Linked DNA regions of Homo sapiens: region 1 is linked to region 2. A link means that fine-mapping ties the variant in region 2 to the expression of a gene that starts in the linked region. Tissue or cell type: whole blood. Region 2 holds a variant in brackets; the other region holds the start of a gene. All regions are shown on one strand. Distances are between the middles of the regions.

The links. PIP is the estimated chance that this variant, and not a neighbour inherited with it, causes the effect.
Region 1: SEL1L starts here. The variant in region 2 is fine-mapped to the expression of SEL1L in whole blood (TOPMed, PIP above 0.99).

The regions. Positions count from the first base shown.
Region 1 is chr14:81,530,100-81,538,205 of GRCh38, forward strand. SEL1L (SEL1L adaptor subunit of SYVN1 ubiquitin ligase) reads right to left here and starts at 3,754. Exons shown (of 21, transcript NM_005065.6): 1 at 3,576-3,754. The coding sequence starts at 3,645. RefSeq lists enhancers at 3,542-4,041, 7,828-8,106 and a silencer at 3,758-3,877.
Region 2 is chr14:81,472,249-81,480,341 of GRCh38, forward strand. It overlaps SEL1L (SEL1L adaptor subunit of SYVN1 ubiquitin ligase), which reads right to left. Exons shown (of 21, transcript NM_005065.6): 20 at 7,364-7,492; 21 at 1-4,933. The coding sequence ends at 4,724. Among named protein-coding and RNA genes, the nearest start is that of LINC02308, 26 kb to the left of the region's middle. The variant G/C (reference allele first, on the strand shown) is at 4,337.

The DNA of each region.
Region 1 (8,106 bases), 58 kb after region 2:
TATGCTTTCAGGGAAAAGTGATCACTACAAAATCATTTTTCCATTCATCACGTAAATTAAACAGACTGATAACCTTTAAACACAGAAAGTCTAAATAGTTTGGTGAAAACAGACCAGATATCCTGTTCTCTGCTTTAGCTCTAAATTGGTACAGATCCTAAGATACTCTCGATTCTAAATTTCTTCAATTCTGAGACCTGGAGAGCTAGGTCTGGAACCTGGCTTCATCACATGTTAATTCTGACACATGGTTCAGTAACAAAAGCTTGCTCAGCCTCTGTTTCTCAATCTGTCAAAAGGGGTAACACCTCTGTCCCGCTGACTCACAATATTTTAAGGAACGACCAAAACAGTGAAATTAAACATCCTCTGCTGTCTGAAAACTACTCTCTGAATTTATAATTATTACCTGAAATACCTGGCAGTGGACCTAACTAAAATGACTAACACTGCTTGGCACAAAGAAAAAAAAAGGTTAAGCCATTTGCCTCTTCTGCCAAAAATAAGAAAGCATGCATTTGTGAGAAAAATTATAACCTTTTCACTATTATCCTGAGAAAATGAAGAAATATCTTTTTAGTGTCCTCCTTTAAATTTATTAATAGAAAAGAGAAAATGTTTCTAATATTAGCCATGTGTCAATGACGAGGATATGTTCTGAAAAGTGTATCACTGGGCGATTTCCTTTTTGTATACTTAAACCTAAATGGGATAGCCTTCTACATACCTGGGCTACATAGTGTAGCCTGTTGTTCCTAAGCTACAAATCTGTACAGCATGTGACTATACAGACTACTGTAGGCAACTGTAACATAACAGTAAGTATTTGTGTACATAAACATAGCTAAACATAGAAAAGCTACAGTGAAAATATGGTGTAAAAGATTACAAAACATATACCTGTCTAGGGCACTTACCATAAATGGAACTTGCAGGATTAAGAGTTGCTGTGGGTGAGTGAGTGAGTGAATGTGAAGCCTAGGATGTTACTATACACTATTGTAAACACTGTACACTTAAACTACACTAAATTTATTTTTTAAAAAGTGTGCTACCATGTTCCAATGGCTACAATGTCACTAGGTGACAGGAATTTTTCAGCTCCATTATATTCTTACAGGGCCACCATCTTACATGGGGTTCATTGTTGACCAAAATGTCATTATGTAGCATGTGACTATATCATATTTTTACATGCTTCTAAAACATGATACTAGCTAACAGCTATCAACAGCAATAGAATCAAGATTCTCTTTGTTGGCTGACCATACTCCACCTGGAGAGATGCGACCTGCCCTGGGTAACCACTAATGTTCAAACACAAAATTATAACCAAAAACTTGATTTTAATACTGGAGTAAAACTTTAAACTTTGAGGCCGAAACCCTGTGAATGAAAATCACAATTGAAAATCCATAGCTTAATTTACACAACTTTATTTAACACAGGGTTGTTTTTTTTTCTTTTTTTTTGAGACAGGGTCTCGCTCTATTGTCCAGGCTGGAGTGCAGTGGCATAATCACAGCTCAGTGCAGCCTCAACCTCCTGGGGCTCACTCCATCCTGCCACCTCAGCCTCCCGAGTAGCTGGAACTACACGTGTGCACCATCACACCTGGAGTTACGTAGAGATGGGGTTTCGCCATGTTGCCCAGGTTGGTCTTGAACTCCTGGGCTCAAGTGATCCTTCCACTTCAGCCTCCCAAAGTGCTGGGATTACAGGTATGAGCTGGGCCCGCACAGGTGTTTTATGATATATGAACTTCATGTGAGCACAGCACTGCCTTTATTACCTTTTAGCATGCACATCTACATTGTTTTAGTTCTGGCTAAGGCTTCTGCCTTTACCATTGAAATGTTGTGGCACAGCTTTAACTATGATGGAAATCAGAGCAGACATTTCTTGAATACAGTCCTCTACCTACATCAATACAACCCAAGGATTTAATATATCAGTGTTAAGTCTTTTATTACAACATCCTGAAAGCCCCAACTGTTGATCTTCAAATATCTTTTCCACTGGCATGGAGCTCTAAGTATATAAAATGCAGTCAAAGACAGACAGCACAATTCCTATGCTTTAATTTTCTTTAAACTCTGCCAATTAAATTCAGAGGGATACACACCGTGCTCTTTCATTACTGTAGTTCTCTTTAGTGTGAAGAATCCCTCATGGAGATTGTTAATCTATGTATACCTGAGCTGTTCCAGACCTAAAACCCAATGTTTAACAAACCCATAAGAGGAATTCTGATGCAGGAGGTCCATGGTCCAGCAGGTACTCTACTCATTAAGCTCAACAGCTTCATTTCATGCTTTTTGATCAAATATTAAATAACTGCTAAAAGTGCTTCGAGAGTTAAGTATAGTCTAAAGATCTGGTCATTAACTCAAACCATCACTACTACTGGAGGGAGGGGAGTGGACCTGAAAGAATGATGTTGGCAGTAAAGTAATTAGCATAGGGTTGGTGCTTTTGAAATGGTATCTCAAACCACATCATGGATAGAATTTAGGTTTAAGCCTCTTATTTTAGAAGCAGAATGACGTTATGGCATTGATTTACAACTAGGACAGGTAATTTGGGGATTCAGATAACCATCTGGGAAATTTTCTGTTAAAAAAAAGCTGACATTTATTAAAAAAAGAAAAAGCTGACATTTATACTCCGTGTTGTCCCCCCAAAACGTCAAGCCACAGAACACCTGTCCTGTTAACTGAAACTGATTAAAATTCCAAAGTTTTACTGTACTAATTTTTATTTATCAACACTTAGAAACACGAAGTTTTCATGAACACTCTCAAAATGGAAATTTTCAAATGTAGGCAGATTAAAACATTAAAAAAGGGGGAAAAAAGCAGAACCAGAATAAACATTAGCTAACTGGAAAATCAATTCAAAAGCACACAAATTTCTGTATCTATATAAAACGCATCTTATAAGAACCAAGATTTTCCCAAACATCATAAAATGACTGTCAACAAACATGGGGCAACTCAGAAACACTGTGACAGGTCACCGCTTTCTCAGGAAGGTTTCAAAAAAGTAAAAAGTGGCTACGATGAGATCAAAAGTCTTCGTTTTTAAACAGACAGACCAGGGACCATCTCAGGTGTTAAGCAAACTACTGTCAACATCCTGGTCTGGATGGATCCTCCTCTGCCCCAAAGTGACAGCTCCAGGTTTGTCAATTATTTAACTTACAATTCCCAAGCCCAGAGTTCTAGACCAGACCCTTCCTCTACCCCAGGGTCGAGGAAGCTCCACTCGGGCTCCTGTATCAGGATTCATTCCTTTGGAGTCAATTCCGCGTTCGTGAGAAGAGTCGCGCAAAGTTTGTTACGTGGGAGAGAGGTGTGGGCAGGGTGACCGCCCCTTCTTTTTCCACCCCACTCCACCTTCCTAAATAGCCCCTTTGGCGCAGGCCAAGCAAAGCCAAAGAGCGAGTGACAGCCCAGTGCGAGATGTGCCCAGGGAGAACGGGGTCCCGAGCCTGGAGTCCCCACGGCCCCGCCGGCTGTAGAGGCTGGGGGGCGGAGGCTCTGGGCCTTCAGCCCGAGGGGGCGGATACTGACCCGAGGACGCCGAGGCCAAGCTCAGCAGCACCGCACACAGCAGCAGCGTCAGCCCTATCCGGACCCGCATCCTCCTCTCGGGGCCGGTGCCAACCCCTAGAGCTGTCGCCTTCGCCTCTGCCACCACGGACTCAGCCACCACCGCCGCCTCGCCGCTGCTCTTCCTGCTCTAGTCTCCTTCCTCCGCCCCTTCCCAGGCTTCCCTGACCCAGCGCGCAGCCAATCCCCGCCCGCCGTCGCGGGCTTCTGGTCCAATCACCATGGTCTCCCCGCCCACCCCCATTGCTCCGCCCCGGGGGTCATTCATTGGCCAATCATTGTACGAAGCTCCCACACCAGCTTTCTCGGTTGGACCACGACTCACGGACATGGCCCCAGCTAATTGGTAGCCCCTGGGTTCAACCGGAATCAGCGCGTGAGTCCAAGACTGGGAGAAAGAGGCTCATCCGAGACTACAATTCCCAGAATGCGCTTCATGTGATTAACTCGGGGGGTGCTCTTGGGAAACGTAGTCCATCGTAGGGCAAGATTTACAAGTGCGGGTGACTGTTGAAGTTAGAATTTAACTAACACCTGGGCTAAATATTAACTCAAGGCTATGGATTCACAAGCCTTTTTAAATTGACCCAAAATAAATATTAAGGAATAATTTTAAGAACTTGTAATGTGTTTAGCATCTTTTCCTGTTTTATTTAAAAAATTTAAATTGGGCATAGTGATAAGAGCACTGAGAAAAATGCCACAGCTAGTTGAATTTGAGGTGTTTTTTAAAACTTAGATAAAACAGTACCGTGAAGTACGGAAACCAGGGTGCAACTCAGTACCTGTCCTCCTTTCTCCGACAAAACAAAAGGAAATAAATCCGCTCGGCACAGATTATCTCAATACAGTATTTATTTTCACTAGGTTCACCAGACAATAATCATAAAGAAAATGTGCCAACAGCTTTGAAAAATTATTTTAAACACTTGTCCTCATCCTTCTCCTCTTGTGAGTTGCATTGTTCTCTTCTTTCCTAACTAAAGTCAGGAGACCAGGTTCACGTGTGTGGAGGTAGAGGTGATAGTGATTGCATCGCAGGCACGGAAATACTCTATGTAATAAGCACGAAATCCAGGCATGTTCCAACTGAGTAGCAGAGCAGTGACTTGGTGTGCCTGCCCTTTCTTTTCTCAAACCGTGTCATTCTGCTTTCCCTGTCATCCACCCACAGTCAGCTCTAAGGCCTAGAACCTAGTCCAGCCAAGTGAAGGACTTTGGAAAAGTCTCTGCTGGCCATGTGTCTTAACACTTCTGGGCATTTGTCTTCCTTCCTTTTTTTTTTTGTTTTTTGTTTTTTGTTTTTTGAGATACAGCCTTTTATTTTCAGGAAGATGGTAAAAAACCAACCACTGTTTCTCATTCACATCGGAGGAGATGAAGGAAAGAATTATCTCCTCCAAAAACTTGTCTTTTCAGCTACATCACCATTTCTGTCACTAACAATGTTCCCTCTGAGTTCCTCTGATTATAAATCATAGAGTAAAATCTGGTATATTTTCCTTTCTTTTTCATCTTATTGATAATCAAGTTCTATCAGTTTAAACTATGTAACTTTTAAATTGTTTTATTTTATTATGTACCTCTGTTCTCTTCCTCACTGAAAACTCCCCTAATGGCTTTCATTTTCTCTCACCTGGATGATGCACCTGAGTTCCAGCCATACTCACTGACATCATTCTCCCTTTAACCTGAATCACATATCATGGCCATATTAATTTTCCTTAAACACTGCTTTCATATGCCTATTGAAAATTTTCAATGGCTACACTTTTCACAGAATAAAAAAAATTAGAACTTATTCTACTCACAAAATAGGAACTGTGCTGACAGTTCTACTCTGTTGGGGAAGTACCAGGGAAGAAACTTCTGCCTTCTACAGAAGAGCCAGTGATTATCTGTTTGATTAAAACTGGGGAAAGTTTGCTGCTTAGTTAAGCCCCAACTTCTTTTTTCAGTTTTGTCTTTACTGAGTACGTCTTATATTTAAGGGTTGTTCTGGGTGCTGCTGCATGGACCAAATAGCCACTTCCGTTTTACTTTCCAGATTTCACATTAACACAATCATGTCTTCCTAAGGGTTCCTCTACCCTTTCTCCAACTGCCCTTGCTTCTTTCACTTAGCCATAACTCTGGCATCCTTCCCAATTTCATTCACATTTCGTCTTGGATCACACTTCTCCAACCAGATCTGTCCTCATTAATCTTCATTTCTCTAAGAATCTATTGAACACTCACAATCTTGCCTTATAAACAGATTGTAAACATGCTGAGGCTGGAGATGATCATGTGATTCTGTGTATAGGTATATAGTGCTGGACTTGCCACCACTAGCACTAGTTAATTATTTATTGGTTGATAGATATGTCTTGCCTGTCTGTTGTGAGATTCAAAATGGAGACACAGGATAAAAGCACTTTCTACATTGTAGGATGTTTTACATATAGTATTGTTTCTTATTGATTGCTTGGTTGAGGCGAAGGAGGGAAATTAGTTTTATACCCTTAATGCGAAAAGGGCTTAGAGCTGCTAGAGCTTTTGCCTTTAGCCAGCAATGAGTAGCTGACGTGCTCTGAGAATTCTCATAGGACCTGACTTCCTGGGGAAGTTCCAAGTCTCCAAAGTGGTTCAGAATATGCTGTGGGAAAGTCAGATTTATTTTATCAGCCTGCTATATTACATGAGATTAATTAGAAAAAAGGTTGTGAATTCTCCATGGCCTATCCAGTCTGTGCATACACTCCTCAAGGTTACCTGCCAGCATTCCCAGTTAAGGTTATGTACTTGTACAAAATGTTAATATTATTTATTAATTCTTAGACTGCTTCAATATTTGCTCAGCTGTCTTTATTCCATCTGTCCATATCAGCATTCTGGGTCATTGTCAGAGATTTCCAAGTTGCAGAAAACCTGTTTGCTCTGCATTGCAGCACAGCATAGCACTCAACAGAGGTAGGTAATAAACACCTTTTAATGCAGATGACACTGATGTAACCTCATGCCATTGAAATGAATCAAGCAATTAACAAATGCTGAGAACCTGAACGTGTTGAGGACATAAATCCAACTTGCTTTTCACTTAAGGATGGTGAGACAACCTCCAGAGACTTTTCCTGAGAATGGGGCAATTGTCACCAACTCTAGTGGGATATATCCTTTCCTGTGCTTTTCTTTGCGTTCCATTTGAATTGGTAATAGGCAAGACTGTCAGCATTTGTATTAAGGTATTTGCCAGGGCAGGATTAGGGAGAAGCAAGAAGCAGAATATTTTTCCCTTCAGGGCTTAGAAAAGAATGTACTTTCTTTCCTATAGATGAGGTAAATTAAAGTTTTCATGCATAAATGAAAATATAAACTCTTGCATTATATAGTGAGATAGAACCTGGCATCTTCTTATTTATATTCTGAGCTCTTGGAGTAAATGAACAATGGACTTATACCTCATCTTATCCCTCCTAACTTCAGGACAGCATATGGCAGGTGATCAAAGTGATCAAATTAATAAGTTTTGGGTGTTCATGCCAGTTTCCATGATTATAATTAAGAGCATTAAGTTTGGATTGCAGATCATAGATTGTGGAGGAGTATGTTTGATCTACCTAATGTTTGAAGCTGATAGAAGATGAAAGGGGGGAGGGAGCCTCAGGCTGTTTACCAAGTTTCATCGTGAGGTGACATTTGCTCTGGACATGTGTGTTCTCTGAGCAGTGTTGACTCATACCAGATAAAGGAAAGGCCAGGATATGTTTTTACCCTAAATAACTGGACAGGCATCCTTGGGTCCAATATTTTCATAAATTTGTTAACTGCTAGTTCCAGGGAGAGACTGGATTATAACTAAATTTAAATAAGAACTCGATGAAGTGAACTTTATAAGGTAGAGATAAACAGCTTAGAGCTCCCATTAAATTCAGTTAACCCTTGAGTAGATAGCAATGTATTTAATTAGTGAATGTTGCATTAGGAACATTATTTTCACAGGTCCTTCCTTCCTTCCACAAATATACAGGAACATTCCTGTAGTTGAGCACATTGGCTTTATTACTCATTGCAGTGTGGAAAAAAAATACACCATAAGGTATCTCCGTAGGAGGGTATTAGAAAGAACCTATCTTAGAATTTGGGCTTTGATTGGGTGATTTGTCAGAGACTAAGGAAGTTGGGTTTGCTCTAGATTGGATGCTGTTAGAAGTGCCCCTGCCTTCTATCGGGGGAACCAGCCCCCAATATTTCAACATAGGTTCTTTTTTATTTTCCCTAAGTGTTGGCTGGTCTGAAAAAGAGAAAGAGTACAAAGAGAGGAATTTTACAGCTGGGCCTCTTGGGGGTGACATCACATATTGGTAGGACCATGATGATGACCCCGAGCTGCAAAACCAGCAAGTTTTTATTAGGGATTTTAAAAGGGGAGGGGGTGTATGAACAGGGAGTAAGTCACAAGGATCACATGCTTCAAAGGGCAATAAAGATCACAAGGCGAAGGCAAAATTAG
Region 2 (8,093 bases):
TTAGGTCAGTCAAGGTCATCTGGGGTCACTGACTGTGCTCCCACAAGTACAATTTGAGATCTTGAGATCTGACATCTCAGTTGCCACAGTTTGCATCATGTAGGCTTTTTATCCAAGATCCAATGCTTCTGAGCTGGAACATTTTACCTCAGTTACCTCTTTGAGTTGCCTGCTGGGAAGCTGGGGGCCAAATTTGTAGCCCACTTCCAATTGCACTTTGTGTACATGTTCACTCTTGATTTAATATTTTTTCATTTCTCCTTTACTCAGAGCATATTTAGTCTAAATGTTACTGTGTGGTACGTGTCTCTGCAAGTCCTCTTAAAAAATTCCTGGGACAAGGCAATGCATAAACAAACTTTAGATAAATAATATTATAATCAGGCTAAAGTGAATCACGCTTACTACATATCAAGGCTGCTTCAAGACAAAGATATCAGAGATTTAAAAGATAACATTTCTTAGCAAATTCATGTTCTCCCTAGGGCAATATTGGACTTGTAAAAATCTGAATTTCAGGAGTTTAAAATGAAAGATAAATTCAAATTGCCACAAGTGAATGTTTTCAGAAGCTTCTGAATTTCCAAAAAACATTAAAAAATTGAATCATTCAGCTTAAAAAAAGTCTGTCTGGAAAGGTGCTTGGTTGTGGTATATTACAGCATACAGGATAACCAGAGGTGGAATCTTTATTTCACAAGTTTCAAGATACAGTACAAAACGATTCTGTACATCTCTCTATTAACAGGATTTGTTTACACAATTATATTACACTTCACCAACCTTTATACTGCATTTCATTAAATACAAAATACATTTACAAAAAGAGTCTACCATGGTGTTCCTTCACAATGCCAGCTTAAGGTCTTTTAAAACTTCCTCTTCTACATATTTATAGTGGTTACATCTTGATTATATCAACATTATGAGTTTTATGAGTTTATTTTCTAATCAAAGAGAATAGTGTCAGCCTGTTTCTCAAACCAAATAGGAAAAACAGCATGTGAGATGATTCCCTGCACATAACCAAGGAATCCTTTTCATGCACACAACATTGGACTTTTACTTGTGCAGTCACTTTAACATACAAATCATCTTTCCTTGGGATCGTTTTAAATTTTCTTGAAATACCAAGTGGGTGGAGAGCTTCTTTTCAATGAATACCACACATTTAAAATCCAGATCGTGCCTCAGGCATTCAGGAGTGTTATATTTTAATTTATATTTGAGAGTGATGACTGATGAAAAATATTTGCATGAAAATAGAAATTTTCTTTTGTTCTGATCATTTCTTACATACTTCTAGTCATAATAATGTGTAATACATATATATATTATGAGATTCACTTTCAAAACAAATATCAGCTGTCACTGAAATATAGCCCTGCTTGTCTTGGCAGGTAAAGGGGCTGTTTTCATGACACATCTTGTTTTGAAATGTGCATGTGAAATGTTAGTCCGAACCTCTGTAAAGGAAGTTTTTGCGTATGTAGTTAGACATTAATACACATGCTATACACATAAAGAATTGTGTTTTTCATTTATAGGCCTGCATGCATACTTCCAAAACACTGGTTTGAAGAATGAACATGAGGATAAAAGAAGGGAGAGAAAGACAAAGCAAAATAAAAAAAAATTCCTATATATATATTAATAAAATACTTAAGTTTCCTGGAGGCATCAACGGCTCTTTAAATAAATCATCAGATCATCACCAGATCACTGGCAGGGGTTTCCAAAACTTCCCAACAGTACAGAGACAGAATGGCTTAGTGGTAAGACTCTCACATGTAAGGTAAAAATTAACCTAATATGCAAAAAAGTAACAAATCCTTAGTATCAAGATTAATAATTTATAAATTCATCTGAGTTAAGTGCTAAACAATACATTTTGAAAAGAAGTCATCTTTGATTTACTTTTTCTTTGCCATTGACTGCTAATCAAAAATAAGCCTTACCTAGAAAACAGAAACTGAAACTTCAAACACAGAGACAGAAAAAAAAAAAAAAACCCACCAATGCTACCTCTGTAAAATAAAACTAGAAGCAAAATGAATAGTTTCAAGACAGTCGGCTAACCAACAAACCAAATGCACAAGAGAATACTAAACAGGGTTTTACTGTCATCAAGTTCGAAGGCAGGAAGACAGACTAGAAAAGGTCTTAGGAGAGATGGGCTACCATGGACAAATGAAGCCACACTCTATCTGTTAAATCTAAATTCTAACATTAAAACTCCTGAATCCTGGAGTTAGTTTAATGTCACTGACATTAACTAGCTTTAGTTATTGTCATTTTATTCAAATGGATGCCATTTGATTAGGTAAGTATTGAGCATTATTTTAGGAGAAAAACCAAACCCAACTCCTATTTGCTTAGGTACCATGTCCCATGAACAAAAAAGAAGAAGAGAGCAAAGTATTTTTGAGACAGTCTTTAAGTGAAGCCATAAGAACTAAGTTATTTGAAAGACACCATTCACAAACTGCTGGCAGCAAGTGACCCAGGGTAAAATGAAGTAGAAACAAGCCAAGAAAAGGAAATTCAGAACATTAACAATAGAAAAAGGCAAGTGGTAAACTAATAAGAAGTGTGTTTTTATATGAACAACAAGACTGCACTTTCCCATCCAGCCTTAGGTGGCACACACTGTTTTAAGAAATGTTTTCTCAAAGCACGTACTCAATGGAGGGAAGGAAAGTTAGATATAAAAATCTTGCTAAAGGAAAAATGAGGGTGGATGGCAGAAGAAAAAAGTGAAAGTTGGTAGTCATCTTGGGTGGTTTTTCAACTTTTAAATAAATTATAACAGTTCCTTCTAAAGGAAGTGTGGCTGCTACCGTGGATTACACTTATTTTGAAGCGGGGAGAAGGGACAGTGGTGGAGACACCAAAGTACTGTACCAACTGCACTCAAATCTCTACATGTAAGAGACCAAACAAGTCTCACTATTTACAAGAGTTGCCTAAAGCAACATTACACTTAGGGGGGGTAAGTTTCCTACCTTTCACAGATACGCTTTCATACATATGGCTCTCTTGGTGACTAACTCTTCGAATTTGGAAGCAATTATCTGGGAGGAAAGTTTTGCTTACCAGGTTTCCCATAATTCTCTAAACACAAAAAGGTATACAACTTCATATATAAAAGCCTTCATGTTCATTATAGACTAGTTAAATCTAGTTCTAACTACTACCCCAACTTCAAAAATCAAAGCAGTACAACTCTACAAGCAATAAACTTTTCAAGTTTTCTGGCAGATGAGGGATTCTGGGAAAAAAGCATGAAGGTTAGTATAAACATACTGACATCAGTAGGCATAGAAAACCTGCTCAGATACGAATGCAGTCTCAGACAAGATACAGGCTGGTGAACACCACCATCTGACAATAAAATGAAATACAAATTCAGTTTAAGCTTTAATTATTTCACGTGTGTAATTATGTGAAACTCTTCAGTTTTTTTCCCATACTATTTAACCAGACAATCCTGAAGCATAGTAGCCTTGATTTTCCTAATGTTAACAGTGAGAAAATGGTGACTATGATAGCTAAGCAGTGGCTGGCTTTCTATTATAATATAAAACTATCAGAAATAAAAAGATACCTGAATAGTATAGAACAGTACAAACAGGTTTTGGCTTTCATCAACCACTGAGTTTAATCCATCTTTGATTCTCTGAGTTTTAGTATTATAATAGTAGTCACTGTAAGCCATACCCTGGCAATGATATTTCATATTTAAAGAATTCAGGAAGGTGATGTGTTCTTTGTGCAAAAAGAAATGCAAAGTAAAATAAATCCTGGGAACAAATGCTTCAACTTTAGGAAAAGTATGTCTGTGTCTGTGATCGTAGTACCCCAACCAGAGTTCGTTTTGTTTTCTAATTTCTCCCACTTAGTCCATCCTCTGGCTTCTGGATCAAGGCTCTGTATATTCAAAACAAACAAGCAAATTACAGAGTAGGTGGGGCAAACTCGCGTTAGTGCAAGGAGTCAGTTCACAAGGTTTTGCATAAGTATATTCCATTCCAAAGAAGTAAAGCTCACAAAAAACTCCTTAACAAGGCCTTTCATTCTTTGAAGGAGAGGAGTATGGTATACCGTGTGACAATCACCAATAAGAAACCTCCCAACCCTCCCTTTTAAAATAACAAATATGCTGAATATGTCTAATTGCATGTGGACTGGTAAGAGTTTCTCAGTTATCGCAGTTCCAAAACATTTTCAAGATAGCTTTTTTTTTTTTTAACTTAAAAGGCAAGTTCTATTTTCAGACTTTCGAACACGTTTAAACTTGCAACTGGGTTTTCCTTTTTACACTGATCAGTTTTTA[G/C]TGTCGATGCACAATACCTTAAAGATGGTTGACATTAAGAACTTATGCACACTGAAATAATGACCAAAAGGATCCAAGAAAGATAGCTGGATACAGTAGACATTACTCTGAGTGTCTCACATATGTTTCCAGAAAAGAAAAAAAAAAGCCACTGAAAGTTGTTATTCCATATGGCACTGAAACAAACATTCAGCTCAGTTTAGGTAAGAGTTACTTATCCCTGAAAATAAAGGCATCAGATTCTAAGCAGCTTTAGGAATTCAATGCTTCCTTGTGCCGTGCCTCTTCTGGGAGGTGACCACTGATCCAAGGTCCTAAATCAAATGCAAGTGTTCCCAGCAGATAACTTCCTTCGCTGTCACTGATCAAGGCTGGACCCAGTGCCTATTACTGTGGTGGCTGCTGCTCTGGTGGCCCCTCCTGCTGGGGTGGAGCTGGCCGTGGCCCTGGAGGCCTGGGTGCAGGCATGTCTTGGTGCTGCCTTTGCCTGTAAGCTATGACTGTTCCCAACAGCAGCGCAATGATGGTCATGAGGTAAAGGTCCCACTCAGGTCCCAAAAGCTGGTCCATATCAAGTTGGGTGAACATATCTCGAATCTTAATGAAAATAATATAGAAACCATTATTATCACTAAAATGTCAGGCAAGGAACTGGGAAAGTTACATCACCAGAAGTAAGTACAGAAATTAAAATAATTTGTTTTAAAAACGTTTTGCAATGTGTGTGTGTGTGTGTGTGTGTGTGTGTGTGTTTAAAGCGGTTTTAAAAGCCTTCAACTGAAGCTCAAAATAATGTGTCTGAGGAATTAAGCTACTAATTTATAATAGCTGACACTTAATATAAAATGTCTGACAGTGTTCTTTCCACCAGTAATCCAATACGCTAATTTTAATCATTTTTCACAGAAAATATTTGGAAAACAAAACAAAACAAAACAACACTGGGGCCAGGCGCGGGGGCTCAGGCCTTGTAATCCCAGCACTTTGGGAGGCCGAGGTGAGTGTATCACTTGAGGCCAGGAGTTCAAGACCAGCCTGGCCAACACGGTGAAATCCCATCTCTACTAAAAATACAAAAATTAACCAGGCATGGTGGCGGGTGCATGTAATCCCAGCTATTCTGGAGGCTGAGGCACAAGAATTGCCTGAACCCAGGAGGTGGAGGTTGCGGTGAGCCGAGACTGTGCCACTGCACTCCAGCCTGGGCGACAGAGCAAGACTCTGTCTCAGGAAAGAAAAAAGAAAAAAACAGTGGTGAGCCAAGGGGAGAAATTAGTATCTTGGCACAGCGAACCTACTGGCAGTGACAGCACACCAGCTGGAAAGCTCTGTTCCATGACAGTGGGGCCATTTCACAATTCCCATGTAATTGAAAATAGCAGGAATTCAAACATTTAATAGCTGAATGAATAATGCTTCTCAATTAGGATTTAACTAAAACACAAAATATTTAACATCTGAATTGAAACCTGAAAGTTATGTTCTTAGCCTATAATATTTTAATTGTTTTAGTATCACTGATACTTTCTGACTTTTATTATACTTACCCATTAAGAAAGTAAACATGGGGTATAATTTTATATAAAATTACATTTGAAAGATCTCTATAACACGTTTGTAGGTACAGGTGCTAAATTTTTCTGGAAAAAAAATGACAAGAAACCACTAATTGTGTTCTCTGGGGAAGAATCTGGGATGGGAGATTTGTGTTCTTCTGTACTGTTTGACTTTCTTATGATCGATACTTATTAGTCTTATACTCTCTTTTTCTTTTTAGTTGGAATAACTAGGTGGTAGGATTATGGGGCGTTTTTACTGTCTTCTTTATACTTCTGTATTAAAAAAAACAGCAAAGATACAATATACCCAGTACAGCATATTATAAGATGAAGTCCTAGACTATAACCAACAGTTAGTAATAAAAATTGTGAGAGATAAAGGTCTGAAATGGTACTGAAAGAGAAAGAGGAGGCTGCCACACGATCAGCTTTTAATTAAAGGAACAAAGATTGTTTCAATTGGCAGCGGTTACAGCACACCTGACTCATGCTACCATGCAATTATAGCAACTGACATTACACATGTGGAAGCGACTGGGAGGCCAGAGTCCCACAAGACCAGTGCTCTGGAACCCTATCTGTGGAGGACTTCAGCTGCATGGACTAGACAAGTCCATTTCTTTTCACTGATGCTGGAGCAGCATGGACTACATTTATACCTGTGACACACATGAGGGAAAGCCCATTCTTGAATCTAAAACTGAAAGACATTAACAAAAGGGTGAAACATCATCCTTTTCTGGTCCTGAAGAAACTTTCCTTGTCCTGAATAAGCCTATGTTAGAAACAAGGGCTCTGAACATCTTAGGGCTTTCAGAGTGAAATGCTCTACCAGTTAATCCATTCTAGGAACTATAGTACTGGAAACAAAATATAAAGCTGGCAGAACCCAAGAGTACCTACATACCAGTATTGCCAACTAAAGTTGGTAATTTTGAAGAAAATGGGTAACCCACTTCCTATATAGGTTCTTCCATTAGCCTATTTAAATAATTCACGCTATTTTTAGAGAAGAAAATTTGGGTGGTGTTTTCAACTTAATGCTTCACTATCGGAAGAATCTGAAGTACAACAACCTGGGGAGGTTCTCAGATTCTTCTTTTTTTTTTCCTTTTCTTTTTAAGGGACTGGTTTGAGTCATCTGATTTAATGTTTACTGAATTAAATACTGTTTCAAACTGCCATGAGTTAGTCTCAGTTTTCCCTAAACCAGAAAACATCTGCCTCCATGAAAAATGCTTTAGCGTCAGGAAGTGTCAAACGCTACCTAAAAACTGCAGTAGCTGCTTTATGCCTGCATTTATCCCTCCCCTGATAAGGTCCTCGGGTACCTGAGCTGAGGAGAAGGGAACACACCCGATACCTGCAGGACCACTCTTCCCTGTGCTTCTCAACTTTTGAAAAACAAACCTCCAGGACAGACCTTCCATCATTTATATTTTAATGAAAAGAGGTACGGACCACTTACGTTTGTTTCCCGTATGTACTGCAAGAAATAGACGACGCCCAATTTGCAGAGGGCTAGGAAGACTGGAACTTGTGCATCTGGGCTGGCTTCAGCTGCCATGTCATAAAAACGTTTCGCAAGGTGAATATCCTATAATACAGGTAAGAAACAAAAATGCATTTCTTGTCAAAATAAGTAAAAATATTTAGTGAACATATTAGACGAATTTATTTTACCTTTGAGGTTTTCATTTTAAAATGAGTTTCCCTCACCTAAACAAAAATGCCAAGCTTTACTTGGGTAAAATTCGTTTAATTATCTAACTGCTTAATATTGAAAAACTTAATTAAAAAACTCATTTTCCCCCAACATAACATCTAATTTGCTGTGTAGATATGCTGCATACAGCCATATATCTATGCATTAACACTGTTAACCTAGAGATTTCCAAGGGCGACTTCTGAAACTCACACTAATTTTTTGCTACTTAAAACTTCAATCAGTATTAGCAACGTCTGGTTTCAGTTCTGGACAGTGATCTTCAAAGTGGGGTAGAAACACTCAAGATTTTACAACAGATGACAGGCACGGTGGCTCATTCTTTTTTATTTTTTTTTTGAGACAGAGTCTTGCTGTCACCCAGGCTGGAGTGCAGTGGCGCGATCTCGGCTCACTGCAGGCTCCGCCCCCCAGGGTTCACGCCATTCTCCTGCCTCAGCTTCCCGAGTAGCTGGGACTACAGGTGCCTGCC